4 linked regions of the Homo sapiens genome follow. The protein of the gene in region 1 purifies or fractionates together with the protein of each later gene. This does not show direct contact. Each region holds a gene or a part of one and is shown in the gene's direction. Other genes may lie near its edges.

The links.
Region 2: the proteins of LIPF (region 1) and BRAF purify together in Homo sapiens (affinity purification with mass spectrometry; 3 studies listed by BioGRID and IntAct, with this or other methods). This does not show direct contact.
Region 3: the proteins of LIPF (region 1) and MPZL1 purify together in Homo sapiens (affinity purification with mass spectrometry; 3 studies listed by BioGRID and IntAct, with this or other methods). This does not show direct contact.
Region 4: the proteins of LIPF (region 1) and LRSAM1 purify together in Homo sapiens (affinity purification with mass spectrometry; 3 studies listed by BioGRID and IntAct, with this or other methods). This does not show direct contact.

The regions. Positions count from the first base shown.
Region 1 is NC_000010.11:88,673,716-88,680,346, forward strand, and holds the end of LIPF (gastric triacylglycerol lipase isoform 2 precursor), read left to right. Parts: coding exon 1-19; intron 20-1,870; coding exon 1,871-1,942; intron 1,943-2,493; coding exon 2,494-2,565; intron 2,566-4,729; coding exon 4,730-4,966; 3' UTR 4,967-5,099; downstream 5,100-6,631. UniProt on the Homo sapiens protein: Catalyzes the hydrolysis of triacylglycerols to yield free fatty acids, diacylglycerol, monoacylglycerol, and glycerol. Shows a preferential hydrolysis at the sn-3 position of triacylglycerol.
Region 2 is NC_000007.14:140,774,268-140,783,025, reverse strand, and holds part of BRAF (serine/threonine-protein kinase B-raf), read left to right. Parts: coding exon 1-5; intron 6-1,332; coding exon 1,333-1,450; intron 1,451-4,950; coding exon 4,951-5,035; intron 5,036-5,937; coding exon 5,938-6,114; intron 6,115-8,758. UniProt on the Homo sapiens protein: Protein kinase involved in the transduction of mitogenic signals from the cell membrane to the nucleus. Phosphorylates MAP2K1, and thereby activates the MAP kinase signal transduction pathway. Phosphorylates PFKFB2.
Region 3 is NC_000001.11:167,717,013-167,725,653, forward strand, and holds the start of MPZL1 (myelin protein zero-like protein 1 isoform a precursor), read left to right. Parts: upstream 1-4,969; 5' UTR 4,970-5,139; coding exon 5,140-5,230; intron 5,231-8,641. UniProt on the Homo sapiens protein: Cell surface receptor, which is involved in signal transduction processes. Recruits PTPN11/SHP-2 to the cell membrane and is a putative substrate of PTPN11/SHP-2.
Region 4 is NC_000009.12:127,475,510-127,482,509, forward strand, and holds part of LRSAM1 (E3 ubiquitin-protein ligase LRSAM1), read left to right. Parts: intron 1-3,424; coding exon 3,425-3,454; intron 3,455-3,873; coding exon 3,874-3,996; intron 3,997-4,329; coding exon 4,330-4,469; intron 4,470-5,673; coding exon 5,674-5,718; intron 5,719-7,000.

The DNA.
Region 1 (6,631 bases):
CAGTAAGAACTTTAACACGGTTAGTATGCATTTCAATTTCTATATTTTGAGCAACATCTTTGATTACTTGTTTCATTGCCACTTAGAAGTGGTACTTTATGAGAACTAGGAGTAGGTTCAGAACTGCGATATCCTGATAAACATGAGAGAAATCACAAATCATTGCTCCCAATTTAATCACTTCCAGCATCCTTCCATCACCCCAGTTGCCCCTAAACCAAATAAACAACATGAAGAAAAAACACAATTCACTACTCACTTATGACCACCTAAATACTAGGTGTTACATTTAAATTCTGTAAGAGAAAGGACTGAACCATATATTTTAGCAGGCTCCTTTGTGAGAAAAATGTCTAGATATTGAATAAATGTTTTCAATAAATATTTCTAATGCTGACAGTCATTTTGATAAATCTTACAGACTATATTTCTGAGCAACTATTTATGTAAGACTTTGCCCATATTCTTTTTTTGAGATAGAGTCTCGCTGTCACCCAGGCTGGAGTGCAGTGGCGCAATCTCGGCTCATAGCAAGCTCCGCCTCTTGGGTTCACGCCATTCTCCTGCCTCAGCCTCCCGAGTAGCTGGAACTACAGGCGCCCGCCACCACGCCCGGCTAATTTTTTGTATTTTTAGTACAGTCGGGGTTTCATCGCGTTAGCCAGGATGGTCTCAATTTCCTGACCTCATGATCCACACGCCTCAGCTTCCCAAAGTGCTGGGATTACAGGCGTGAGCCACCACGCCCGGCTGACTTTGCCCATATTCTTTATCTACCTTTTCATTCACTTTGTATTGAGTTGGAGTTTCAAAACATATGGACAAAATACACTATCATAGTTAAGAGTATGGATTTAGATCAGTTTAAATTCAAACCCTACATTTGGAACTGACTTAAACGTCTCTGTCTTGATTTCCTCATCCACAAAATGGGTTATTGGGAAGATCAAATGAGCTAGTATGTTTAAAGCATATAGAACATTGTACAAAGCATATAGCACATAGTAATAGCATATAAGGTTTTCTACTACTATTCATAGACAACTATCTCCCCTCCAAATTGTCACTTTAGTTATATACCCTTGAACACCTAAGAAAATTACATCTATTGATAAGAAGGTATAATTCTATGAAGTGTTGTGGTTACTTGTCATTCCATATGTGGAGTTTAACAGAGAGTAGCCTGTCCTCATCACACGAACAAAAGGCAGAACAAATTACTGTATTCCATTAGTGAGAGTCTTATAAGAAAAATAATAGTAAAATAAGACAAAGGAAACAAAGGAAATTAGAGATTTCATCTTCTGCGTAATAATTTGCAGAAGACCATCTTCAGTCTCCAATGAAGATGGCCAATTTGTTTCACTATGGCCACAGTCCGCTATATTAATGGCATTAAGAGTCACTATGAAGTGGCCTTCTGCAACTGGAGAAAGGAACTTCAGTTTGTTGCTTGGGGTTCTGCAAAGCAAGAGGCCTGTGTGTGAATATTTAACCTACAGCACTCTAGCACTGGGTAGAGAAGCATAAAAGCTGAGAATTTAGACTCAGAGACCCAAATTAAAGTATCTGTCTCCATTCTGTGTGGATCTTGGACATTTCTTTAAACTTCTTTGTGCCCCAATTTTCATGTTGATAAAATGGAACTAATAAGTTCTCCTCATTAGGCAGCTACAAATTAAATGGGTTAACACATGCAATTGCACTTTGCAAATTCTGAAGTGACATACAAATGTGTTGTTCATATCCTTCCAGTAAATGCTACCTTTAAACACTTGACCTGAATCAGAAAACATAAATCTTTACTGTTTTTAAGAAACTGAGTATGTGTCTTAGTATGTATATAATATGTGTGTCTGTTGATTTCTAGAGTCGCTTGGATGTGTATCTATCACATAATCCAGCAGGAACTTCTGTTCAAAACATGTTCCATTGGACCCAGGTATTCTTTTCCAAATGCTGTTAAAATGTATTTTGTGAGTCTCAACCCTTTTCACTTTACCTAAACACATTCTTAAAATATCCTGCTGAGTACACCTGGAAGGTAATTTTTCTGGCACTGACTACCATACAAAAATAACTATGAATTTATTTCAAAGAAGAAAATGCTTTTTATTTTATTTTATTATTATTATACTTTAAGTTTTAAGGTACATGTGTACAACGTGCAGGTTTGTTACATATGTATACATGTGCCATGTTGGTGTGCTGCACCCACTAACTCGTCATTTAGCATTAGGTATATCTCCTAATGCTATCCCTCCCCCCAGCAAATGCTTTTTATGACTTGGTATGCAAGAAAAATTATTTTGAGTGAAGCTGCATTTAAACTTACATAAATACCTTGTCCTAGATTATTAATAATCTTTTGGAATGAGAAAAATGTTTCTTAATAATTGTTTAAATTGAAAATAAACTGCTTGGAAATGTTTGAATTTTATTTTTCACAATATAATAATTTTTATTTGTTTGCTTTTAATTTCTCTATGTTAGGCTGTTAAGTCTGGGAAATTCCAAGCTTATGACTGGGGAAGCCCAGTTCAGAATAGGATGCACTATGATCAGGTAAGCTTCTTAAAGATGGAATTATTCACATTTTGAACAACAATACTAACTATTTAAATGTTAAAGAAGAAATTATGTTAACTGCGCATCTGTTTTCCAAAGGAATGTTGATGTTCTGTCTCTCATTCTCCCACATGACTATGCATTCCTGCTCTGGTGGCTACGCTCATTTAAAGAGGTTTACAAAGCTGCCCTCAAAGTACTACACCCCTGTGTGTGAGAGACTTCCCAGGACTTACCACTACCCATTGCCATTACACAGACCTGTCCCATATCCCAGATCCCCAGCACACTGTCCTCTCCTTTCTGAAGTACTAATACCTGATATAATAAGCTAATAATTCTAACTGTTCATGGAATTTCTGGTCTTCTTAAACAATACCCTTTCCTTTGTTGACAGCCAGAGGAGTGATTTCAATGGGATATATTCCCAAATAGAAGAAAAAGATGCCGTGCTTGCAGGTCAAGGCTGGAAATATTTTACAATAGGCAGAGGCCTTTGGCATAGGCAGACATATTAAGCAGTCCTCACACTTGCTGTAATAAGAATCCAGACTTTGGAGCTTATCTTATCTGCAGTCAATATGAGTTTGGGCAGTCATTTCTTCATCTCTCCACCCAGGCTCAGGAAGTTGTTGACAGGATTTAGTGCTATAATATCTATAAGCTCTTAGCTCAGGGTAAGCTCTCGGGTTATCACTGACTATTTTTGAACAAGGGAAGCACCCTATAGTATTTTGTAACCTTCTCTTCTTCCTTTTCACCACATCCAATTTTTCCATCCAAGTAGTAGCTGAACAACTCTACTAATTTTCATTTGTTTCCATGACTTAAAATTTAGAAGGAATTTATATGTTTTAACAACAATGTCTTATGTGTAGAGAAGGTGCCCCCCAACCTTGATTTTGCATTTTTGATATCTTTAAAGTTTTCAGAATAGCATGAGATCAAACTTTTGTTGAAAACATTTTTTCCTCCACCATCACTTTCTCAAATCTCCAAAACACACAGGCTTGCTTTGAGTCTCTCTTTCTACTGGACTCTAATACTCATAATCAGAGGACTTCATCTTAGAGGAACAAGAAACCCAGTCCCCAAGTCCACCCTTCTTCCAACTAAACCAATAATATACCAGGTTGGTCTTTAACTAACTGAAGCAATGACACTAATTTAAGAGCCAGGGCCAGCATCTAGAAAACTCTTTGAATAATAGGATGTAAGTAAAATAAGCTGGGTTTATAATTATGAATATTCTCCACACACTCCCTTTTCTCTAATATTTAGGAAATATAATAGAAATCATGAAAATATTAGGGAAAATTACATATCATAAAATATTTTGCTATGGCAAGTTGGCTATTACACAAAATGTGAGAATACAGAAACTTTTAGTATATTGGATTACTATTCTTGAAACTATGATCTAAAAAAATCTAACAAAATTCTCTCTGGGCAGCAAGAAAATTTGAGATAATTCTCTTATTCCTTTTTCTGCTTTGTAAACCTCTTTAAAATCTATGTGTGAATTGTGATTTTCGAGAAACAGGACATGGGGATGATAATACCCTTTCTCAGAATTTGAAGCAACATTTTGTAAATACTCAGGTAAGTATTCAACAATTACAGCTCCATAACTGAAACAACTGACCTATCCCCTGACCATAACTGGGAAGTCAATACAAAGCCAAAATAAATGACTCAGGACATTTTGAGATCATATTTTAGAGTGTTTGGGTAGAAACAACCTATTAACAATTAGAATCTAATCAAATCCATTTCCCTTAGCTTGAGTTGCAATCTATGTTCTTAATTTGTAAGACTTACTGTCCAAAGCCTTGCTATTCAGAGCATGGTTTGGAGCCAATGGCATCAGCATCACCTATGAATGCAGAATCTCAGGCTGTTCCCCAGATCTACTGAAACAGAATTTTTACTTCAACAAGATCTTCAGGTAATTCACAGGCCCATTAGAATTTGACAAGCACTTATCTAAAACATATTGCATTCACTTTGCTCTGTGGATAAAGGTGGTTTTCTCTGTGCAATCATTGCTAGAATTCACTTATAAAACCGCCAGTTAATGTTATACACTCTACTTGAATAGTAAGTACTGGGTTTAAAGTGTGGTTACCTAAACTCTGGTTCTTTCTCTTGTGTTTTCTAGTCCCAACCTCCCTACTACAATGTGACAGCCATGAATGTACCAATTGCAGTGTGGAACGGTGGCAAGGACCTGTTGGCTGACCCCCAAGATGTTGGCCTTTTGCTTCCAAAACTCCCCAATCTTATTTACCACAAGGAGATTCCTTTTTACAATCACTTGGACTTTATCTGGGCAATGGATGCCCCTCAAGAAGTTTACAATGACATTGTTTCTATGATATCAGAAGATAAAAAGTAGTTCTGGATTTAAAGAATTATCCGTTTGTTTTTCCAAAATACTTTATTCTCTCATACATAGTATTTTCATAATGTTTGACATGCAGTGCTTCTTTCTGTAATTTTGACTTTAGAAATATATTGGCATCAACAAACTTCCATTTGTCATTTTGAATTTTTTTAATTTAAAGAAATTTGATTTTTCACCTGGAAATTTATCTAGAAATACTTGAGAGAATATATTTCTGGGGAGGTGAAACTTCTCATTTTCCCATTCAGTTTCTCTTCTGAACTCACTTATATATGAGCTGTGAGCCATAAGTGTTTCTAAAGGACAGTGTTGGCTTCATATTCGCTCTGCTTATGTACACTTGATACTGAGTATATTGCTTTCTATTGTTGATGAAGCTAAGTCTTTCCATCTGTGTAGTGGGGCCTATCACTTGCTATTTTGCATATTTAACCCCATGGAAAGGCCAATTGGGATATAAACTGAATCAACTCACTTTCACTTCCCAGGGAGTGGAGAGCAAGGGTAGTTTGGGAAGCAGCAGATGAAGTCAACCCTGAGTCAGGAATTTGGGAAGAAAAGGGTATGCTCTATTATTATTATTATTATTATTATTATTATTATTATTATTATTGTTCTGCCCTCATGTTTTTGGGTCTTGACCACCAAATAGGCACCAACTAACCAAACTATTTTTGAAATCTCTGCCACAGTGCTGGAAACCACAGGATCCAGAAACATCCCCATTGATATATCAATTAGGATGTACAACTGCCATCAGTAACAACAAAAAAAAAGGCTCACCCAAACTTTCAAAATTTCTAAACACACACAGCCTTACCTTGGAAATTTTATTAACCCCACAAATTTGTGACCTCATATTTTATGCAATTAAGTTATTCAGATCACACCTATTATACTATGTTACGGTTTGATGTATAAAATATAAATGAGATAAGGAATATCTTGTACCCAGCATAGTGTATAAAACATAGTGAGTATTCACAAAAACCTGTTAACAATGTTTATTATATTGTCACATCCCTCAACCTTTGTTAGGAAGCCCCAAACTTAATTTGTTTTAAGCAAGAAATTGCTAAAAGAAGATAACTTGGGAGACTTTATTTCAATATTTCAGTGAACTTTGTTGTTAGACTTTACTAAACTGACATGAACATGTCGGTGACTAGTTACAAATGTTCATGGTGGTGGAAGCAGTTGAGGACTCAGATGTTTTATCAACTCTACTTCCTCGAGAAAAGAACAATCATTAGATTCTTGCAGTCTCCTATGCTATTCCAGCTAACTGCCTTTCTTTTAGTCGGTACTCAGCAGATACAGGAAGTTTTGGTTTGGATTTTGAACACAATTAAATACTATCTTATTGCTCCTACAGCAGCTTTGCTATCTCCCATTTGTTAATTTGAACTGTCAATTTATCAGCTAATTTTCAAGAGTTTATTTCTATCTGCCTGCTGTAATCACAATTTTCAAGTGTTTATTTCTATCTGCCTGCTGTAATCACTCCTTGGGCAACCTCCTGCCATGTCAAACTCAATCATTTCAAACTCAAATTCATCATCCCCACATCTCTGAGCCAAATAAGTGTCAAGTTAATGAAGTTCTCCCAGTAACCAGGGAGTGAGACTCTGGAATCAACTTTGAATACCGCCTCTC
Region 2 (8,758 bases), on another chromosome or scaffold:
GAATGGTAAGAGTATATGATATCTTTTTTTCTCTGAATTCTTTCTTCTTAGAAGTCACAGCCAAATGTAATATTATCCTTTAGATATATTATGTCCATATGTGACACAGAATTCCCATAATTAAATAAATTTAAGAACTGATAGTTTTTTGCTTAAAGCATATTTCTACGGCACTGCTTTTTGCTGTCATCTATAATATAATTTAGTAAAAGGCAGTTTTGGAAGAGTAACAGTATTCTGTTCTAAAGTAAGGAAAAAGAGAGAAAGCTAATATTAGAAGGCACGAAAAGGCTGGTCCAGAATTCAGATATTTCAGATATCTACTGAAGGACATTCTTCCCTATTTAAAAAATCAACTTTCTTCTGCAAAATGAATCCACCATGGCACATGTATACGTATGTAACAAACCTGCACATTCTGCACATGTATCCCAGAACTTAAAGTAAAATTTAAAAATAAAAAACGAATACTGTTTAGCCGTAGTATTGCTACTAATTGTTGAATAAGAGGATCTTTTACCCTACCAAAGTAATTTTATATGTTGATTTTTTTTTTTTTTTTGGAAAGACCGAATTAGATAAGATACATGAAGAAATTTAGCACTGATTGAAAAAGACTACCTAGATGAATTGTCAGTAGTTACCACAGGTTAACTTAAAATTTTTTGTGATTTAGAGCCAAAACTATTCACAAATATAGCAGCACTTATCTTGCTCCTTAAAGTCTTCCAGATGATAAAAACATTTTACTTATTTCAGTAATATACATTCCTGCTCATACCCCATAAATAATTTATATTTTTTAATAAATTGTTTCCATCCTAACCATCCTTCTGAGCAAAGTATCACAAGGACAGAAAACCAAACACCACATGTTCTCACTCATAGGTGGGAATTGAACAGTGAGAACACTTGGACACAGGGCAGGGAACATCACACACTGGGACCTGTCATGGGGTAGGGGGAGGGGAGAGGGACAGCATTAAGAGAAATACCTAATGTAAATGACAAGTTAATGGGTGCAGCACACCAACATGGCACATGTATACATAAGTAACAAACCTGCAAGTTGTGCACATGTACCCTAGAACTTAAAGTATAATAAAATAAAAAATAAAAATAAATTTTTTCCATCCTAATATTGACTTCAGTCTTAAATTTAAGTTTTGTATTTTAAGAGTCATACTTTTAACTACTATTCTTCCAGAGAATTTTTCTTAAGGGGATCTCTTCCTGTATCCCTCTCAGGCATAAGGTAATGTACTTAGGGTGAAACATAAGGTTTTCTTTTTCTGTTTGGCTTGACTTGACTTTTTTACTGTTTTTATCAAGAAAACACTTGGTAGACGGGACTCGAGTGATGATTGGGAGATTCCTGATGGGCAGATTACAGTGGGACAAAGAATTGGATCTGGATCATTTGGAACAGTCTACAAGGGAAAGTGGCATGGTAAGTATGTAATGTGGTGACATTGTGACAAGTCATAATAGGATATGTTTAACAACTTTTATTTTGTAAAAAATATCATCAAAGGAAATATTCACTGTTCGCATCAATAAACTATTTTGATTAGTTTCAGGACTCCTCCAAAAGTTTCTAACAAAAATTATGGGAAATAAAAACTGTTCACAGCAGTCGGGACTCCTACCATTTTATTACAGTAATAATTTTTAAAGGGGAATTCCTCCAGGTTAACTAGTCCTCAAAAGGATTTTATTTTCTTTTAGAGTCTTTCAGCTGATAATTTTATTTGTATTATAAGTCACAAGTAAACATATTAAAAATGTACTTAATGGCTGGGCGCAGTGGCTTATGCCTGTAATCCCAGCACTTTGGGAAGCTGAGGCTGGCTGATCACGAGGTCAGGAGATCAAGACCATACTGGCCAACATGGTGAAACCCCATCTCTACTAAAAATACAAAAATTAGCTGGGTGTGGAAGCACGTGCCTGTAGTCCCAGCTACTTGGGAGGCTGAGGCAGGAGAATCACTGGAACCCAGGAGGCGGAGGTTGCAGTGAGCTGAGATTACGCCACTGCACTCCACCCTGGTGACAGTGAGACTCCGTCTCAAAAAAAAAAAATTAACAAAGAAATATAAGTGGCCAGTAAACATATACAAAATGTTCAGCCTTACTAGTTATCAAAGAATTGCAAATTCAAAAAATAGACATCATTATTTGCCTCTTAGTTGGACAAAATCTTTTTAAATTGGATTATATTAAGAGTAGTGGATGTATTTTCATCAAAGGTTTAATATCAATGAAAAGTGAAAGTGAACATGTATCCAACTAATAGAGAATTGGATAAATTTATACCATCATATGTGATTATATAGGAGTTAAAATGGCATGGTAGAGGTACATTTATTGATGTAGAAAGGTGTCTTTGGTATATGAAATTTTTCAAAGCAGTATGTGTAAGATACCATATTATGGAGCTCATAGAAATATATAACATAATTTTTTATATGACAGTATTTTAGGCCAGGCACAGTGGCTCACGCCTGTAATCCCAGCACTTTGGGAGGCCGAGGCAGGTGGATCACCCAAGGTCAGGAGTTCGAGACCAGCTTGGCCAACATAGTGAAACCTCATCTCTACTAAAAATACAAAAAATTAGCCAGGCTTGGTGGTGGGCGCCTGTAATCTCAGCTACTCAGGAGGCTGAGGCAGGAGAATTGCTTGAACCTAGGAGGTGGAGGTTGCAGTGAGCCGAGATCCCGCCATTGCACTCCAACCTGGATAACAGCGAGACTGTCTTAAAAAAAAAAAAAAAAAAGACTGTGTTTTAGTTTTTATCTCCTTAATCTATCTTTTCACAGGTGTTCATAAATATTCACACTAAATTCATGTAAAAGCCTAATAACATATAATGTCACTTTTGAGTGACATAATTAAGGGAATTTTTTTATACCTTCAAAATGTCTTTAAACTTTTCTTAAGTGCTGTACAGTATTTTATGATACAAACAGTAGAATAAGCACTGTATTACTTTGATAATTGAGGAAAATCAATGTTGATTTAACTTATTAAAATATACATACAGGTTGAGTATCTTTATTTATTTATTTTTGTTTGTTTTGTTTTGTTTTGAGACAAGGTCTCGCTCTGTCGCCCAGGCTGGAGTGCAGTGGCACAATCTCAACTCACTACAACCTCTGCCTCCCAGATTCAAGCAGTTCTCCTACCTCAGCCTCCTGAGTAGCTAGGATTATAGGCGCGTACCACCACCCCTGGCTAATTTTTGTATTTTGAGTAGAGACGAGTTTTGCCATGTTGGCCAGGCTGTTCTCAAACTCCTGACCTCAGGTGAGCCACCCACCTTGGCCTTCCAAAGTGCTGGGATTACAGGTGTGAGGCAGCACACCTGGCCAGGTTGGGTATCTTTAATCCAAAATCCCAAACCCGAAATGCTCCAAAATCCAAAACTTTCTGAGTGCTGACATGATGCTCAAAGGAAATGCTTATTGGAGGATTTCATATGTTTGGATTAGGGATGTTAAACTGGTAAGTATAATCAAAATATTCCAAAATCAGAAAAAATTTGAAATTTGAGACACTTCTGGTCCCAGGCATTTTGGATAAGGGATACTCAGCCTGTGTATAAAAGTGCACATAAATTAGCCAGGCATGGTGGCATGTGCCTGTACTCCCAGCTATTGAGGAGGCTGAGGTGGGAGAATGGCTTGAGCCCAGGAGTTCAAGGCTGCAGTGAGCCATGATCACACCACTGCACTCCATCCAGCCTAGGTGACAGAGCAAGACTCTGTCTCTAAAAAAATTAAATAAACAGAACATTACTAGCACTCTAGAAACACCCTCCCATGTCCTCTTCTAGCCAATCACCTCTCTCCCAAGGGTAACCACCACTGTGATTACAACAGGAAGTGCATAGTGTGTACTCTTTTGTGTCGGCCCTTTTCACTCAACATTGTTTATAAGATTCATCTATATTGTTGTGTGAAGTTGGAGGTCATTCATTCTCTTTACAGTATTTCATTGTGTGACTATAACATGATTTCTTCTTTCATCTGTTGCAATTGGATCGTTTCCAGTTTGGGGCTTTGATTGATGCTGGTGCTGTAAACATTTTTAGTGTATGTCTTTTGGTGAACATGTAACCATTGATGGGTATATATACCTAGGACAGAATTGTGAGACCACAGGGTATGCATATGTCCAGTTTTAGTAATGCTGCCAACAATGTTACAAAGTAGTTGTACCAATTTAAACACCTACTGGCAGTGTTGACGTTACAGCTGTTTCACATAAAGTTTTTTTTTTTTGATGATTTTAATAAAATATCATTTTCTTTTTTTATTATTATTATACTTTTAAGTTTTAGGGTACATGTGCAAAGTGTGCAGGTTAGTTACATATATATACATGTGCCATGCTGGTGTGCTGCACCCATTAACTCACATGAAGTTTTTTTTAAATTTTAGTGACAGTTTTAGTCATTTTCCTAATTGAAAGTATCATAAGTAATCCATAAATTTGAAAAAAATGTTAACTACTCTGATAAAAAAGTTTTATAGTTTCCTACTTTTAAGCAAAATTCCATAGGGCCTGGTAATTGTAGTTTCAACATTACTTGCAGTTTCAGTTAGTAAATAAATATTAAGCCTAGTAAGTATAATTTAATATTGTCAAATAATTTGGAAAATACCATGGGTACTTAATTGATTTTACCAAATTTCCATGGAACAAACAAGGTTGGCTATTTTTTGGATTGATATTTTGAAATACTAGTACAGGAATATCATTGTTAGTTGAATTTTTAGCCTTAGAAAACAAATGGAGTTTAGATAGCTAAAGTATAATTTATTTGTGATTTAATAATGGTATGGAGTTAGGGCTATGATAATTAGTGAAAACACCCAAGAATGTTTTATACTTTTAAATTTTAAAAATTGAAATGACACTTGGAGTAACAATTGCCTTTTAGGTGATGTGGCAGTGAAAATGTTGAATGTGACAGCACCTACACCTCAGCAGTTACAAGCCTTCAAAAATGAAGTAGGAGTACTCAGGTGAGCTTGTGTGAATTACTCTTTTCCAGAGAAAGAAGTTATTTTTATTAGCTCCTGGTTCCCAGTGGTAGCAACTATTAGCTTTACAGATTTACTCAAAATGAATAAATTTGTAGAAACAGAGTATGTCTGAGTATATTTTTGTCTTTAACCACATTCTTTTAAGTAGTATGCAATGTTATATGGTATGGCTGATAGAATACTTAGTCCTAGACTGAATTAATGGAAGTATAGTATTCTGATAATATAAAGTAATAGTTCTACTTATGAAAAGAATACTCTCCAGTTTTAAGCTTATCAGAATACATTTAGAGGTGGTATTTAGTCCTGGGCTCTGGAATTTTAGAAACATTGACAAACTAGGATATGCCTAGTGAGGACCACCTAAATAGGGAAGATTCTAGAGGTGTAACGGGGGAAAATAATCAACAGAACTGAGGATATTTAGTTCACAGAAGGCTGTTATGTTCAAGAGAGTGCACAGTTATTCCAGAGTGCGGAAAAAAAAGTTATTCCAGAGAGCAGACCAGGGAAGCAAGCCAGAGGTGAAAGTTGTAAGAAAATGATTTTGTCTCAACACTTGGAAACTTTATAATACCAGAACCACTTAAATAAAGATATGAGAGTCAGCTACAACTGAGTGATGAACTTCCCATAGTTGAAGGTATTTAAGCAACCTCTAGTTGCCTGTCAGATATATTTAAAAAGATATCTCTGCATAAAGTAGGAGGTTAGACTTGGCAATTGCCAGTCTCTTCTAAATGTATCCTTTTGTTGCCTTTTTTAAAAAAAAAAAAGCTTTTTCTGACAACATTTTACCGACAGACTACTTTGGTTCTCTTTTGTAAGAATTGCTAAAGTTTGTCGACATTTAATGTTTACTGTCACATTTCTTTGTACAGGAAAACACGACATGTGAATATCCTACTCTTCATGGGCTATTCCACAAAGCCACAACTGGCTATTGTTACCCAGTGGTGTGAGGGCTCCAGCTTGTATCACCATCTCCATATCATTGAGACCAAATTTGAGATGATCAAACTTATAGATATTGCACGACAGACTGCACAGGGCATGGAGTAAGTTCCATTCGTTAAATGTCTTGTAAATTATTTTTGAAGACCATTGAGGATGTTTTAAAGGTTTTGGCTGCTATTCTTTTGGATTGCATTTTAAATTACTGTCCAGGAACATAAGGATGCTAACTAATGGCTGGTAAATAATATGATACTAAAAAATAAATGTCTCTGTCTAGTGCAGCCTTCAGAACATATATCAAGTATTTGATAATAAATACATGACTGCAAACTTAGGCTTAGCACTCAGTGATTGAGCTAAGCAAGAGAGGTTCAGAAGATAGAAACAGCAAAAACCTGCTAAAAAGTTGTTAGCAGTTGTGCAAGTAAACAGAATGGTTGTTAGTTACTTTTTCAAATCAGTTTCTCTGAGTGCCCGTATTTTTGGTTGCAAAATGGTCAGTTAATAAAGTTAAAGTGAAAAATCTGCATTCTGACCCTTTTTGAGGATTTCAGAGTGAGTTCCTATCTGTTGAATTTTGCTATGCAATTTAAGGAGTTATTTTATAAAGTTTACCATAAGCTAATATGGGGAACTGACTTTGAAGGATAAATTTTAAATTTTGCAACTCTTAAGTGCAAATGAATAGGTAAATTAAAAGGTAAAATTAAACAAATTTTGAAAGCACTTAGGTGAAAATTATAAACTCAGTAAAATATGAATTTGAAAGCTCTGTGAGAAGTTTAAAAATAGATATGATCTGAATTTTGTTTTTTACAAATTGCTTTCACTTACATAGATTATTATGTCATTTAATCTTTATAATGTTATGAAGGAGATCTTTTTTCTTTTTACAGATAAGGAAATTGAGGCTTTTAAGTTCCTTGTCTAAGGGCACACATTTAATAAGTGGCACCAAAGGTGTTTAACTCAGGATTTCTGACTCCCAATCCAGTATTCTTTCCCCATAACCACTATGCTACTTTTACATTACAAAATTAGAATAAAAGAGTAAAAGGGTATATATGTACTAACACCTACAACTCTAACTGAGTATTGCTCCTAGCAAGTAAGTATAGAGCCAAGACTCTAAACCAGATCTGGCTCTTAGATCTTCCAACTATACCACCTTCTCTTTCTCAAAACTAGGCAATATATCTATAATTTAGATTGTTTACAAGCCTATATTCGGCCAAAATACTTATTACAGCAAATTATTACCTTATTCAGTAACACCCCCACTTACCCCTAGACTTGAAACAATCTCAACGTTTCAGATAAGTTAGAATCTCTGAATCTGTTCGAATCTAAAGGCTTTTAAAGAATTAAAATCTTGGCCAGGCACAGTGGCTCACACTTGTAATCCCAGAACTATGGGAGGCCGAGGCAGGCGGATCACCTGAGGTCGGGAGTTCAAGACTAGCCTGACCAACATGGAGAAACCCCGTCTCTACTAAAAATACAAAATGAGCCAGGCACAAGCCTGTAATCCCAGCTACTTGGGAGGCTAAGGCAGAAGAATCACTTGAACCCGGGAGGCAGAGGTTGCAGTGGGCCAAGATCACACCATTGCACTCCAGCCTGGGCAACAAGAGCAAAATTCCGTCTCAAAAAAAAAAAAAAAGAATTAAAATCTTGTGAAGAGTAAACCATGGCAAAGATTGTGAACATTCAGTGAGAAACAAAGGCTTATTCTCTTCCCACACCACTGGTCTCTTTGCAATTTCTTCAGCAGGCCAAGCGTGTTCCTTCTTTAGGACCTTTATGTTTGTTATATTCTCTTTAGGATACACATGCCACAAATATCCTTGTGTCTCGGTTCATATGTCCCCTTTTAATAGAAATCCTTGCTCACCTTATATAACTAACATGTCCCCACGTCACTCTGTCACTCTCTATACCCATAGGCTTGATTTTCTTTATAACGCATAGCTCCATCTGACTTGTTTCTTGTCTTTTATCCCCACTAGAATGCAGGCTGTATGAGAGCAGGGGCTTTTTTTCATTATTTTATGCCTAATGCCTAGAATGGGACCTGGCATACTCAGTACATAACTGTTAAATGAAAATGATTACACACAACTGCATATTATTGATAGATTTACCTTTCAGAAGAAAGAGATGCCAAATCCTTCTCACATCACAGCTGAGAAATGTGGCTGGGCATGTTGGCTCACACCTGTAATCCCAGCACTTTGGAAGGCCAAGGTGGGAGGATTGCTTGAGCCTAAGAGTTCAAGACCAGCCAGGAAACATAGGGAGACCCTCGTCTCTGTAAAAAATAAAAAATTTAGCAAGGTGTGGTGGCACTTGCCTGTAGTCCTAGCTACTCACTAGGCTGAGTTGGGAGGATCACTTGAGCCCAGGAGTGTGAGGATGCAAGGAGTCGTGATTGTGCCACTGCATCCAGCCTGGGTAACAGAGCGAGACCCTGTCCCAAAACAAACAGGCTGGGTGTAGTGGCTCATGCCTGTAAACCCAACACTTTAGGAGGCCGAGGTGGGTGGATTAAGACAAGAAGTAACAGTAAAGAAGAACATTATCAAATTGGAATAGTGCTGCAGTCTGAAGAACAGTCAGTGAAGAGGTGATATATTTTCAAAATATCACTTTACAGTTTGGGATTATCAGTGTAAACTTTAGTCATCTACTCTGAAACACTTTGGTTGTGTTTTTAAATAGATCTTACCATTTAACATGATGCAA
Region 3 (8,641 bases), on another chromosome or scaffold:
TTCCTTAACAATACGAATTTTAGGTGTTTTTTGTTTGATACAGGGTCTCACTCTGTCGCCCGGGCTGGAGTGCAGTGGCATGATCATGGCTCACTGCATTTTAGTACTTTTGTTGCCGGAAAAAGGGGTCTTCACCGAACCTGGAGAGAGGGTTCTTGGATCTCGTGCAGGAAAGAATTCAGGGTGAAAGAAGCAAGTTTATTGGAAACTACTCTGTTACAGAGCAGGATGTTCTCAGAAAGTAGGAGGAGAAACACCCCGTTCTTAAGTTTTTCTTATATAGTGATCTTACCTATGTAAAAGCTAGGCTAAGCTGTGCCTACATACGGGTGAGCAGACAACATGACAAATTTTGTTACTCTGTTGATTTAAAGAAGACAATTATTGACATTTTAGTGTGTGAATACGTAAAAGCATAACTGTGATTATCTTAAAGGCATATATTGTTGTAGATATTAGGACATTTGGACTTCTTGCTGTTGTAGGAGTCAGTCCTAGTTATCTTCAGGCTGTTTCCTTAATTATAAACATCCCATGACTATGGGTCGTGGCAGGCAAGGAATGTGCCTTGTTAGTCCTAAAATGGAGCTGAACTTAAAATGGCATTATTCTAGCTTTCCTAGGCTGCTGCTTCCCTAACACGTTGACAAACACATTGACAAACAGTAATTGTGAATTGTCATTCTAGCAAATAACCAACCAGATAGGAAACAAGTAGACAGAGTGACTATCTTAAATAGACCTATTCATTAATTTTATTTCATATGTCATACATTCATCGGTTTATTCATTCATTCATTCATTGCTCATTCTTTTTTATTTTTTTCCGAGACGGAAGTCTTGCTCTGTCACCCAGGCTGGAGTGCAGTGGCGCAATCTCAGCTCACTGCAACCTCCGCCTCCCGGGTTCAAGCAATTTTCCCGCCTCAGCCTCCCAAGTAGCTGGATTACAAACGGTGGGCACCAAATGTATTTTTAGTAGAGATGGGGGTTTCGCCATGTTAGCCAGGCTGTTCTCGAACTCCCGACCTTGTGATCCGCCGGCCTTGGCCTCCCAAAGTGCTGGGATTACAGGCGTGAGCCACGGCGCCCAGCCTACTCATTCTTCAACAAACATTTAACAACAAGTACTATGTGACCGACTCCGAACTGTCCACTTTCTTCCTATGGTTTGACAACAGAAAATTATAGAAAATCTAGCGCTGTCTTTACCCTTGTTTTATTTAAAACTGCCCTAACTTGAGTCTTCAGTTCTTCTTAGGGCTCCAGGAAAGGAGGGAGGATAAGAATACCTTGTACAATGTTAATAAGTTCTAGATTGCCAGATAGTGTATTCATCAAAATCTAACTGGAAAAAAATATGCCCTGGACACCTAAGAAGTTTATACTGCTTTTCTCCTTAAAATGAGGAAGCTGTAGAATATAACTGGTTAGAGAAAATAATATAACCACTTCAGATATCTGAAAGCCTCAGTCTCAAGAAGTCTCCCTGCTCTCTCTCTTTTCCCTTTTGAATTTACTATAGCTATTATCATTTTAGATTTTTCCCCCCAACTTCTTCTATCTAATCATTAAAAAGGAACTTGTCTTTTACTCGGCAGGCCAAATACTTGAGTATCTCATTTGACTGTCATAACAATGATGCAGAAAGACTGACAATAACAAAACTCAGAATATTGATTGCTTCATTGACAGTGGGAAATATCCCTATTTGGTAGGAGGAATGCCTGCGCTATCTGTCCAGGCACATGCTTCCCTAGAATTAGGTCCTTGGGAAGCAGATGTAGTACACAGATGGTTGCAGGGCCCAGGAAAACAGTGTATCTTGAGGAAAATTTTATCCCAGCTACAGTGAATTTAGAAGTCTGACAGCACAGCCTTCTCCTGTAAGAATTAACACCTCCCTAAGGACCCTTTTACCCTCGTTCCCCCAATTTGGTGTCTCTGTGCCAAGGGGAAGGAGACACTAGAACTCTAATTTTCCAATTTTCAAAAATTTCTAGCAGCAATGCTTCTGGATTAAGACATTCTTTGTGAAACTGATTTGGCTTCAGGCGAATCTTTCTCAAGGTGGCCTGGGATTCCTCTTTGAATCTATCTGATTTGTTATCTGCGAGGAGTCAAATTCTCAGGGTTCCTGGGACACCACCCACATTCCAATTTTCCTCTGGCAACAGATCTTGAAGACAAAGACAGACAGGCTAGAAATTGGGACTCTTTTTCTCTTGATTATACTTCTCATCCAATTTATACCCAGTCCTGTAATTCTTTTCGTGAAATGTCTCTCAAATCCTGTCTTCTCATCCCCACTATCAATACCTTATTTCCTGCTCTCTTCATTCTTGCCCTGCTGCAGTGGTTACCTTTTTAAAACACAGATCCGAACTTCTTACACCCCTTTCACCACTCTCCACTGCCTCCAGAAAAAACACAACTCAAGGCTCTTCAAAATATGACCGCAGCCTCCTTTCCTGGCATTCTCTCTTCCCCTCTTTCCCTCACTCCCCTCAAGTTGCAAACCACAAAGGATTCACCTAATGTTTCTCACACTTGGTAGGTGATTTCTTTTCTCTGAATGTGCTTTTCCTGTTTTCTCCGTTCTCTGAGTTTGCTTTTCCTGTTTTCTCTCTGGTGAATTATTCATCTTTTAAAGTTCACCTTAAATGTTTTATCCTTGGTGAATCTTTCTAGATGCTTCTTGGGCCAGTGGATTTTAGGAGAGCGAGGTATATGTGGCTGAGGTACATCACAATCAGCAGAGAAGCTTTAAACACTGCTGAGAGTCACTGTCCCTGCTGGCCTTGGGTTTCTTCTTTATTCACTCTTCCTTTTTTTGAGACGGAGTCTCGCCCTGTCGCCCAGGCTGGAGTGCAATGGCGCGTGATCTCGTCTCACTGCAACCTCTGCCTCCCAGGTTCTGTAGCAGGATGAGCCGCAGACAAAACTCCTCAGACACGGAGTTAAAGAAGGAAGGGGTTTATTCGGCCGGAAGTATCGGCAAGCCTCCTGTCTCAAGAGCCTAGCTCCCCGAGTGAGCAATTCCTGTCCCTTTTAAGGGCTCACAACTCTAAGGGGGTCCGCGTGAGAGGGTCATGATCAATTGAGCAAGCAGAGGGTACTGTGAATGGGGGCTGCATGCACCGGTAATCAGAACGAAACAGAACAGGACAGGGATTTTTACAATGCCTTTCCATATAATGTCTGGAATCCATAGATAACATAACCGGTTAGGTCAGGGGTCGATCTTTAACTACCGGGCTTAGGTCAGGCAGGCCCAGGCCTGGTTTCGGGTCTGGTTCTTAGGCGCCGGGTTACCTGCCTTTAATTTCGCTTCTCTTTCCTTTTCTGAGTATAAAACTATATGAGAGGTTCTGTCTCTCTTCTCTCAGTTCAAGCGATTCTCCTGCCTCAGCCACCCGAGTAGCTGGGTACAGTCACGCGCCACCCATGCCCGGCTAATTTTTTTGTATCTTTTAGTAGAGATGGGGTTTCACTACGCTGGCCAGGCTGGTCTCAAACTCCTGACCTCGTGATCTGCCCGCCTCGGCCTCCCGAAGTGCTGGGATTACAAGTGTGAGCCACCGCACCCGGCCCTCATTTTTACAAATGTAATTGAGTACTTGTTTGTGTACACTAGTAGACGATGTGCTTCTTGAGAGTAAAGCCCAGGTGTTCTACATCCATGGTTCAATTAATGCATTGGTATCTTTTCCAACCTATGGCATTTGAGATACAACTTCAAAAGGATCTGCTGACAGAAATAGGGCAAAGTGGTTCTGGTATTTTTTTTTTTTAAGTTTTTTTCTCACTAATGTTCTTATGATTTCGCTGTACTGCAATGTTAGCTGAAACAGCACAGATATCAGGAATGGCATTGTTAAGACTGACCTTAGACAAAAACCCTGAAGTGAGAGGTTACATTTTGGGTTCTCACCATACTCTTCCCCCGCTCTTGTCCTAATTGTCTAAAGCTTGCTTCCCTTCCTCATCGTATCAGCCTCCCACCTGAATCTTCCCTTTTCCTCCTTCACACTCATCTTTCTTGTGCCCCTGTCCCCCATTTTTCCCTTTTGTAAGCCATTTTCATAAGGATCCTTCCAAATATTTCCCCTATTGATTGGACAACCCGTAGGTGGCAGACTGTTCTGGGCCAAGGCAACCAAGTTGAGCAGGGCCAGCAATCAGTGTCGGGAACTTCTGCAGGGCACTTCAGAATCAGTGTTGGGAACTTCTGCTTTCTATTTTTCACGGACACAGACAGGAACACAGATATGCGAAAGCAAAACAATCAAAAAGCATTTTCATTTGTTTTTCAGGTAGTAGGAAAGAGTTCCAGATTCCCATCCTTCTGAAGCCAGGAGGGAGGTTCCTAAGAGGAGGTTAGGGCAAGATGGAGACTTCTTTTTAAACTAGTAGATTTCGCAAATTGCAACACATACATTATCTAGTCCACGCAAAGGACAGGCCTTGGGGACACGGCACGGGGAACGTGTTCCACCTGGACGACTGAATCAGAAGTCTCTCCCCCATCAATTGAACGCCTCATTATTTTTCTTTCTGTCTTTTCTTTCTTTTTAAGGTAAATGAATTGCTTCTTTTTCGTTAGGTGAGGCCGGCAGAGAACAAGAAGAGCTGAAACGGAGGCGAGGTTAGTACCCAGCAAAGACCTGTGGCGAGGAGAGACAATGAAGAGGACCACGGGACTGGACCCTGAGAAAGGCAGAGGAGACGCTGGCTGGTGGGGCCCGCAGGCGGACAGCCACGCAGGCAGGCGGAAGGCTCGGCTCGGCCTGGGACCGCTGCAGACCCGGCCTCCGCGCGGGGCCGAGGCGCCTGGGTGGGACCGAGGAGGCGGGGCCTTCCCGGCGGACGGATGATGGACAGCCTGACTCTCCAATCGCGTCCTTAAAAGGGTGCGGGCAGGCCAATGAGCGGACAGCGAGGGCCGGAGTGGGGCTGAGGCTTCGGTGCAGAGCTGGAGAGCCGCGGCTGGGACCGGAGTGGGGAGCGCGGCGTGGAGGTGCCACCCGGCGCGGGTGGCGGAGAGATCAGAAGCCTCTTCCCCAAGCCGAGCCAACCTCAGCGGGGACCCGGGCTCAGGGACGCGGCGGCGGCGGCGGCGACTGCAGTGGCTGGACGATGGCAGCGTCCGCCGGAGCCGGGGCGGTGATTGCAGCCCCAGACAGCCGGCGCTGGCTGTGGTCGGTGCTGGCGGCGGCGCTTGGGCTCTGTAAGTGATGCCAGGACCAGGGCTGGGGCCGGGGAGTGGGGCCCCCGGGCCCGACACACGCCCATCGCGGCGGTCGCAGGCCAGGCGCGCGCACTGAGAGCCGAGGTGGGGAGGGGGCGCGGCCTGCGCTCTCTGGGGCCGAGGGGACCCAGCCCATGGGGAACGCGGGCCTCCGCGACTGGCCGGGAAGGCGCAGAGCCTCTTTCTTCTCTTTCCTGGATCCTGGAGTGCGGAGGAGGAGGGGAGAGTGCTTTACCTTGCTCCTTCCCGGGGGGCGGTCCAGGGGAGCGGACCCGGCGGGCGGCTGCGGTGAGCCCTCGCGGCGCACCCTGCCCTCTCCTCGTGGTGACTCTGGATCGTCTAGGCCCTCCCGGATTCTGACTCAGGAACTAGGGTTCTGGCGTTCTTCACCTTTGGGAGGTGGCGGAAAGTTGCAGGTTTTTCATTTGTAGGGCCTTTGTTGATTTGTTTCCTGTTAAGCCAGGGTTTTGTTGTAAGTTCCCTTTCCCATGCTCTCATTCAGTTTTAAGTCTCCGTAATAAAAGAGTCTCATTTCCGTGGTCTGCAAAACGCCAATAAAAAAATATTGTTACTTCTAGGTTAGAATGCAAAGAGCTTGGAATACCAGTGAGATGGCCTGGCTTAAAAGAATTTGGTCAAATCCATCATAATTCCAGACGTAGCCACCATAATTTGACAAGACATAGAGCATTAAAAAGCATAATTTTCCTAAAGGAAAAAAAAAGCTCCTTTTTCTTACCAAATATTGTGACTCAAGCTTAAGGTAAACCTCGGGCTCAATTTATGGGAATTGGATGACTTGTTTTATGGACATCTGAAGTGGTATCTGCCACAGGACTTTTCTGTGTTGTTGTTCAAAGCAAAGTACTTGTTGCTGTCTCCGAATTTAGTTAAATAATAGTTATAAAGAGGGCCAGCTGCTAAGAAACCACGTAGATTTTTTTCATTCCCTTTGTTTTCAAAATGTCAGTTATGATTTAGCATCACAGTATCTGAATACCAGAGTTTACTCAGTAATTTCTTTCTTCATGGAAAAGTTCTTAATATAATCCTTGGATCAGGGAAACTAGGTGAAGTTCTGTTGGATCACCAACTGTTCCACTTAAACAGTGATTCCAGGGGCTGTAAAGCATAAATGTAAAAGTCTCCCTACCCTCCAGGGGTTGACAGATGATGACACACTTTGTGTAAGACACAATCCATTCTGTATTTTGTCTTAGAAAAAAAGGTTAAAAGTGTGTTTGTTGGTGGTGGTATTTGTGTTTAATCAAACAAGTAGAAAATAGCCTAAAATTAAGGTTTATCAGAAATATGCTTCAGACAGAATTGTTATGCATGAGAGGTCAGACATTGCTATGGAGGACAAAGCAGTTAGGGTGATCTTAATTAAAATCAGGGTATTAAACGTAGAAGGAGTGCAAAACTACATAGTAGTGAAAAGATCACTAGAGTAATAGCCCCATACAACTTGGACGTAACTCTTCAGTAATGAAGATGAATGTTGATATGTAAAAATCAGCAGCTGATGTTATTGGTTCAACTTAGAAAATTATTGAATCTAAAATTCTTGCCAAATCACCTCTTTTCTGGTCATGGATACTGCACATAAGAGTTTATCTTTTACAGGATAGCTTCTAAAGTTTTATCAAGACAGTTACTCAGCAAACATTCACTGAGCACCTTTTAAGTGCTTAACACTTAAAAGGTGGGAGGTTAGGTCTCACTGTGTTGCCCAGGCTGCTCTGGAACTGAAACTCCTGGGCTCCAGTGATTCCTCTGCCTTTTCCTCGCAAGCAGCTGGGGCTACAGGTGTGTGCCACTGTGTAGGGTCAGAAGCACATTGGTAAAGATGTACTGTGGGAGCTTGAAGGAGGGTCATTATCTCAGACTGTAGTTCAGGCTACTGGAGGAAGGGAGTTTAAACTGGGTAGGCATGGGGGAGGGGCAGAAGTACATACAGAGTTATGAATGAACCTGTTGGTAGTTCAGTATAGTGGGAGGTTGGAGTGTATATAAGGGGAATGGTGGGAGTTGAGGCAGGAGAGCCTGCCAAGGGCACCAGCTTACAAAGGGCCTTGTCTGCCACACTTAATCCAATGAGGATTTCTCTGTCTATTGAGATGTGAAGGATGGGTTAGAGTGGGGTGAGGCTGAAGCCAGAGAAGGCAGAGGACTATTGTAATAATCCCGGGGAGGATGATGAAGATCTGAATTCAAGCATTGGGCTATGAAGAGAGGACACATGTTGATGCGCCACTTAGAAAGTACGTTTGATAGAGCTTGGAAACATTGATGCAGGCTTGAAAGAGGAGGTGGATAAAATGATCATAGGTTTTGGGCTTGGGAAGCTGGGCATATTTTTGGCCTTTTCACAGATGGGGAAATAGGAGTCTTGGGGGAAGAAGATGATGGAGATACTTTTGAATATGTTGAGTTTGAGATGCGGGTAAGACATCCAAATGGAGATGGGCAGAAAACAATTGGATAGACAGTTCTGGAGGTGAGGAGAAAGTTCTGGTTGGAAATGGAGATTTAGAGAGTTATGTGGCTAATAGTTAAAGCTTGGATTGTTTGGATGAGGGCATCCAGGGAAAATGCACTGAAGAACATAGCAGAGAGCCAAAGACGGAGTTTTGGGGTATATGAAACCTGACAAAGAGTCTCTGTGAGTAAGAGAAAAACCAGGTGAGTTTGGTATTTCAGCATTGTCAGATGAAGAGAGATAAAATGTGATAAGAATTCACTGAATTTGGTAATTGAAATGAGCACATAGTATATGAGGACTAAATCTCAGTAATTTGTACCATCCATGTCAGTAAATGGAACCTCCATACATCTAATTGTGCAGGCCAGAAACCTAGGGTCCATCCCTGATTCTTCCCTGTCCTTCACATCCAATCAGTTCTCCCATCTTTAAAATGCATCTGGAATTGATGTTTTTTCTACCTCCACTCCTAGCCTTTTAGTCAAAGTCACCACCATTTCTTGCCTATATTACTGTGATAGCCTCCCAGCTGCTCTTCCTCTTTTTCCCCCTCTGGAGTCTTGCTCTGTCTCGCCCAGGCTGGAATGCAGTGGCACAATCTCGGCTTACTGCAACCTCCATCTCCCAGATTCAAGTGATTCTTCTTGTGCCTCAGCATCCCAAGTAGCTGGGACTACAGGCATGCACCACCATGCCTGGCTAATTTTTGATTTTTCTATTTATTTTTAAATTTATTTTATTTATTTATTTTTTGGGGGATGGAGTCTCGCACTGTTGCCCAGGCTGGAGTGCAGTAGCGTGATCTCGGCTCACCACAACCTCCACCTCCCTGGTTCAAGCGATTCTCCTGCCTTAGCCTCCCGAGTAGCTGGGACTACAGGCGCATGCCACCATGCCCAGCTAAT
Region 4 (7,000 bases), on another chromosome or scaffold:
CAAACATTTAAAAATGCCAACTTTGCTGGTAATCAGAGGAGAGGCATGTTAAGTTAAAACAACATTGAAATACCATTTCCTTCCTCAAGATTGGCACACATTTTGACATGACAATTTCTGTTGGCCAGAGTATGGGAAAACAGGTGTCCTCATAAACTGCTCTTGGGAGTGAAAATTGGTATCACAACTTTGGAGGATAATTTGACAGTAGGTGTCAAAAAAGATTTTATTATTTTTTTATTTTTTTTTGAGATGGAGTCTCACTCTGTTGCCCAGGCTGGAGTGCAGTGGTGCAATCTTGGCTCACTGCAACCTCCATCTCCCGGGTTCAAGTGATTCTCCTGCCTCAGCCTCCCGAGTAGCTGGGATTACAGGGATGCGCCACCATGCCCGGCTAATTTTGTATTTTTAGTAGAGACGGGGTTTCACCATGTTGGCCAGGCTGGTCACGAACTCCTGACCTCAAGTGATCTGCCCACCTCGGCCTCCCAAAGTGCTGGGATTACAGGTGTGAGCCACCACACCCGCCAGATGTCAAAAATTTTCATGGGCACAGCCCGTGATCCAGAAGTTCCGCTTCTCAATGTATACCCAAGATAAATGCTTGCATGAGGAGACATTTGCAGGAGTGTTTATTGCAGCCTTATTTGTAGTATTGGATGCCCCCCAAATGTTTGTCAGTGAGAAGGCACTGCCCCTGGGTCATGTGCACACCATGAGATGGAGCATTTGAGCCTCGGCTCGCTGGGACACATGGATTAGTGAAAAGGGCAGATTGCAGAACAGGATGGGCTAGTCTATTTCCATTCTTATGTTTAAAAAGAAAACTCAATCAACACCAGCCTGGGCAATGTGGCGAGACCCTGTCTCTACAAAAAATACAAAAAAATTAGCCAGGCATAGTGGCACGTGCCTGTGGTCCCAGCTACGAGGGAGGCTAAGGTGGGAGGATGGCTTAAGCCCAGGAGGTTGGAGTTTGCAGTGAGCTAAGATTACACCACTGCACCCCATCCTGAGTAACAGAACTAGACCCTATCTCAAAAAAGAAAGAAAAAGAAAACTCAAAACAAAAAAAGGAAACAGACAGGTAGTTGCCAGTGGCTGGAGTGGGAAGAGGATTTGATGATGAAGTGGCATGAGCGAATTTTCGAGGGTGATGGAATTGTTTTCTTTTTTCTTTTTGAGACAGAGTCTCACTCTGTCACACTAGGCTGGAGTGCAGTGGCATGATCTCAGCTCACTGCAACCTCTGCCTCTCAGGTTCAAGCAATTCTCCTGCCTTAGCCTCCCGAGTAGCTGGGATTACAGGCACCTGCCACCACGCCTGGCTAAGTTTTGCATTTTGTTAGTAGAGACGGGGTTTCACCATGCTGGCCAGTCTGGTCTCGAACTCCTGAACTCAAGTGATCCACTTGTCTCAGCCTCCCAAAGTGCTGGGATTACAGGCATGAGCCACCGCGCCCAGCCAGAATTGTTTTCTATCTTAATTGTGTTTAGAGGTTACAGAACTCTATGCATATATAAAGATTCATAGAATTGTTCACTAACATTGGGTGAATTAGAGTAAATAGATTATACTTGATTAAAAAAATGTTTATATATGCACACAAATACAAATATATTTCTTTCCCAAAGGCACAAATTATATATGTACAGATGCATGCCTTGGGCCTGATAATGACAGTTACACCTGACAGGAGGTGTGGGGTGGGAGGGGAACCAGGGTTAGGCTGGAGTGGTCAGTAGATGCTTTAGTTTTTTATACCATGTTTCAAACTTTTACAAGGAGAATATATTGAGATGTTATCTGTATAATTGAAGATTAATTTTAAAATTATATTCCTACCATTAGTATAGGCAAAATCCTATTTATAGGTTGCTGCTTTTATAATTCAGAGACTGATCCTGTTCTCAAAACAGGATAACTAAATAGAAGGACCATTCAAAAAATACCTGTGTGCCAGGCGCAGTGGCTCACGCCTATAATCCCAGCACTTTGGGAGGCCGAGTCGGGTGGATGCTTGAGCTCAGGAGTTTGAGACCATCCTGGGTAACATAGCAAGACCTTGTCTCTACCAAAAATACAAAAAATTAGCCAGGCATGGTGGTGCGTGCCTGCAGTCTCAGCAACTTAGGAGGCTGAGGTGGGAGGATCACTAGAGCCCAGGAGGTCGCGGCTGCAGTGAGCTGAGATTGTGCCACTGCACTCCAGCGTGGGCAAGAGTGAGACTCCATCACAAAGAAAAAACTTGTGTGGGCCGGGCGCAGTGGCTCATGCCTATAATCCCAGCACTTTGGGAGGCCGAGGCAAATGGATCACCTGAGGTCAGGAGTTCGAGACCAGCTTGGCCAATATGGTGAAACCCTGTCTCTATTAAAAATACAGAAAATCAGCCGGGTGTGGTGGTGGGTGCCTGTAATCCCAGCTACTCAGGAGGCTGAGGCAGGAGAATTGCTTGAACCCAGGAGGTGGAGGTTGCAGTGAGCCAAGATTGTGCCATTATTGCACTCCAGCCTGGGCAACAAGAGCAAAACTCCGTCTCAAAAAAAAAAAAAAAAAAGAAGAACCTAACTCTTGTGTATATGTGTATTGCTGTTTAATTACATCAATAATAAATTAATTAATTAAACACCAATAATTACATTACATTATTGATGTTTAATACCTGCTCCTTGTTATAAATTTAAACAATACAGACAATTACAAACCAAGTGAATGTCAACCCTTCCACCCTGCACTCCCGTTGCCTGGAGGTAGTCATCATTAACTGATTAATGACTGTCCTTCTTGACCTTTGACTCAATACCTTCACACATATGCTCAGAGTTGAGTTTTCTTGATGATGTTTTTGCAAAAGTAGAATCATGCTACACACAGGTGAGGGATCTCACACATTCGCCCCATTGGCGGTTGTGTAATAGTCCACTGTATGGATGCACCATGACTTACGGACAGATGTTGATAGATGTATGAGTTATTTCCAGTGTTTTTGCTCTTTTGAATAATTCTGCAGGAAGTTGTACCCACACCTTTGTGCACTGTGAGTATTTTGGTGGACTGGAACCGGGTGCTGTAGGTGTGTTACGCAGACATCCATGGGCATCAGATATCCCATTTCCTGCTCTGCTCTTCAGACCACCATCCCTGCTCAGGGCTGCATCCCAGAACTGTCTTGAAGAGCCCCTCCTACAGTGCCATGCACACAGTGACAGCCCAGGGGTTCTCATCAGGTGTCCACTGGAACCACCTGGTGCCCTTGATCAATACGGATCCCCTCATCCCCCGACCCCACCATTCTGAGGCAGTGGTCTGGGGTGGGCCAGAGTTTGTATAACATCAGGCCACCCGGGGGTTCCTGGTGCCCATGCCAGGGAGAACCACTGCTGCCACCCTCTCTTGACCACTGTCTTTTTTTCCTCCCAGAACAGGTTCTCAGACTATGAGAAGAGGAAGGTAAGAAAATGCCTTTACCCTTCTGTCACTCTTTTCTCATTAAAGATCTCAACTCAACTCATAAAATATTTGAGAAAATGACTTCTTCCCAGCTCAGAATTAGAGGTCACAGTAATGCCTTCCTCTTACACGCAGTCTGCTGCATCCTCACATGCCTCAGGTGGGTGGTAGAGCATCCATGGGACAGGTGCAGAGACTGAGGCTCAGAGGGGTTGAGCCCAGCACCGGGCTCTAGACCACTAGCCTCTTCCTGTGAACAGCTTGTTTTCTTACAGTTGGGCCCTGGAGGGGAGTGGGGGTTGCTCAGCATGAAGACCTGGAGCCTGCCCTGTCAGTGTTGAGGGGTGGATTCTCCCGACTTCTGTGTCCTAACTCCCCCAGGGCCTGTGCTGACAGTCACCAGGATCTGTGTCTTGCAGGAACAGAAGATGCTGGAGAAACTCGAGTTTGAACGGCGCCTGGAACTGGGGCAGCGGGAGCACACCCAGCTCCTTCAGCAGAGCAGCAGCCAGAAGGATGAGATCCTTCAGACGGTCAAGGAGGTTTGTGAGCCGCCTGCTAGGGTCCAGCCTGGCTGCATCCCCCAGCCAGTGGCCTCCTGGCTTGGGCCAAGGTCCCTCGGATGTGGAAAGGCAGTGGGATGAAGCTGTCACTTCCTTCTGTCCCCCAGCACCTGGGAGGGCCCTTACAGATCACCCAGCCCAGCCTCCCCGTGTGCAGATGGACACTGTAGCCTACTGGGAGGAGCTGGCCGGAGGTCACACAAAAAGGATTGGCAAGGCAGGGTGGGAAAGCCAGCCTCCTAACCCCAGTCAGTACCCCTCACGGCGTCTGAGGGGGTCCCAGGGGCTCAGGACCCCTACCTCCGGCTGCAGGAGCAGTCCCGGCTGGAGCAGGGCCTGAGTGAGCACCAGCGCCACCTCAACGCAGAGCGGCAGCGGCTGCAGGAGCAGCTGAAGCAGACGGAACAGAACATTTCCAGCCGGATCCAGAAGCTGCTGCAGGACAATCAGAGGTTGGGCTCTGCTCCTCGGCCCCAGCCCCAGAGTCCTTCCCCGTGCAGTCCCCTGAGGAGCCGGGAGGAGTGTGTTTCTCCCTCACTGCCTCTGCCCCTGCCCCGGGCTTCCCTTGTCAGGATCCAGTCTGGGTGCTTCAACTGGCACCAGCGTAGAGAGAAAAGAATCTGACCCAGTCATTACAAAGTCTGGTTTCTTAGCATGAGACTGCTACCAGATTGGACCTGTGGCCTCGGGCAAATGTTTCCCCACTGGGCCCCAAGCTTCCCATCTATAAAGTGAGTGGGTTTGACAAGATAGTTGGGATCACATCCTGCTCCAGTATTTTGGGTTCTGCGTAACCCGTTGCACTGAGGTCAGCTGTTCACCTGTAGTGAGATTTGCCTTAACAAACCCTGTGCAAGGTACGAGCTAGTAAGAGCAGATCTTGATGGGGCTGGGGAGACATGGCGCCAGAAAAGCCTGAGAAGTCTAGTGAGGGGGCCCATTGCAGGATGATTCCAGAAACAGGCTCCAGCCATATGCCCTGCCACTTCCAGGCCTCTTTTTTCTAACCCTGAATCACTCGTTCCTCCCTCACCTGTCAGTTTCAAAAGTACCTGCATGAGTTCAGGAAACCAGTCATTTGTTGGATGCTTCTTATGTGCCAAGCTTGTTACATCTATTTCTTCATTAAGTCTTTACAAATGCACCAAGAAGCTGGGTTGTTTTCATTTTGTTTTGTTTGAGACAGAGTCTCGCTGTGTCACTGAGGCTGGAGTGCAGTGGTGTGCTCTCGGCTCACTGCAACCTCCTTCTCCCAGGTTCAAGCAATTCTCTTGCCTCAGCCTCCCAAGGAGCTGGGACTACAGGCTTGGGCCACCACGCCTGGCTAATTTTTGTAGAGATAAGGTTTCTCCATGTTGACCAGGCTGGTCTCGAACTCCTGACCTCAAGTGATCTATCCACTTCAGCCTCCCAAAGTGCTGGGATTACAGATGTGAGCCACTGTGTCTGGCTGGGTTTTTTTATTCTTCTAATTTCATAGGTGAGGAAACCTGGGACTTGAGTGGTTTCAGTAACTGGCTAAGAACCCAGAGCTTCAAGGTGGTGGAGCCAAGGTGCCCCCAGCCCATTTCCTAAGCCCCTCTGCACAGCTAACGCAGTGAGACAGGAAACAGGCCTGCTGGTGACTGCCAGGACCTTTTATGATTTTCTCCACAGACAAAAGAAAAGCTCCGAGATTTTGAAATCGCTGGAAAATGAAAGGTAAGTGTTCTTCCAGGGGAGGGCAGCATTTTTTTTTTTTTTTTGAGACGGAGTCCTGCACTGTCGCCAGGCTGGAGTGCAGTGGCACAATCTCGGCTCAGTGCAACCCCCGCCGCCCAGGTCCAAGCAATTCCCCTGCCTCAGCCTCCCGAGTAGCTGGGACTATAGGCGCATACCACCACCAGCTAATTTTTTGTATTTTAGTAGAGACGGGGTTTCACCGTGTTAACCAGGATGGTTTCGATCTCCTGACCTCATGATCTGCCCGCCTCGGCCTCACAAAGTACTGGGATTGCAGGCGTGAGCCACTGCTCCCGGCCAAGGAGAGCAGCTTTGAGGGGAGAATGTCTTGTGATTCTCCAGAGGATTATGCCAGGACATTTCCCTAAAGCTATAAGGAGATTCACCTCCTTAGACGATATTTAATTACAAAGAATCATTGTCTTCAAGTTCATTAAAACATACGTACACTCCTGAAAAACATTCAGAGACATGAATAAGGCTAGATATATAATGTCCAACTATATTCCTAGTATAAAAAGTTCAGGCCAGGCGCAGTGGCTCACATCTGTAATCCCAGCACTTTGGGAGGCCGAGGTGGGCAGATCACTTGAGGTCAGGAGTTTGAGACCATCCTGGCCAACATGGCAAAACGCTGTCTCTACTAAAAATCAAAACTTAGCCAGGAGTGGTGGCAGGCGCCTATGGTTCCAGCTAAAAAAAAAAAGAAATTCAGAAAAAAAATCTAAATTTCTGGAAAGAAAAATTATTTAGTTACATAAATTATGTATGGAGGAATAACCTGCAGCCATTAAATGTCTTATTGAATAATATTTCTCATTAAGGGAAAACATAACATATTGCTAATGGAAAAAGTGACAGGCTATATTTATAGCAGAATTTTTAGTATATCTTTTTTTTTTTTTTTTTTTTGAGACGGAGTCTCACTCTGTCACCCAGGCTGGAGTGCAGTGGCACGATCTCGGCTCACTGCAACCTCCACCTCCCAGGTTCAGGCGATTCTCCTGCCTCAGCATCCCGAGTAGCTGGGATTATAGGCGCATACCACCAGGTCCGGCTGATTTTTGTATTTTTAGTAGAGATGGAGTTTCACCATGTTGGCCAGGCTGGTCTCAAACTCCTGACCTCAAGTCATCCGCCTGCCTCAGGCTCCCAAAGTGCTGGGATTACAGGTGTGAGCCACCGCACCCGGCCATGTGACTATTTGTGAAGGAAATATTTAAAGGACATTTTGCTAGGTGCCAACTTACCTTCCCAAAAA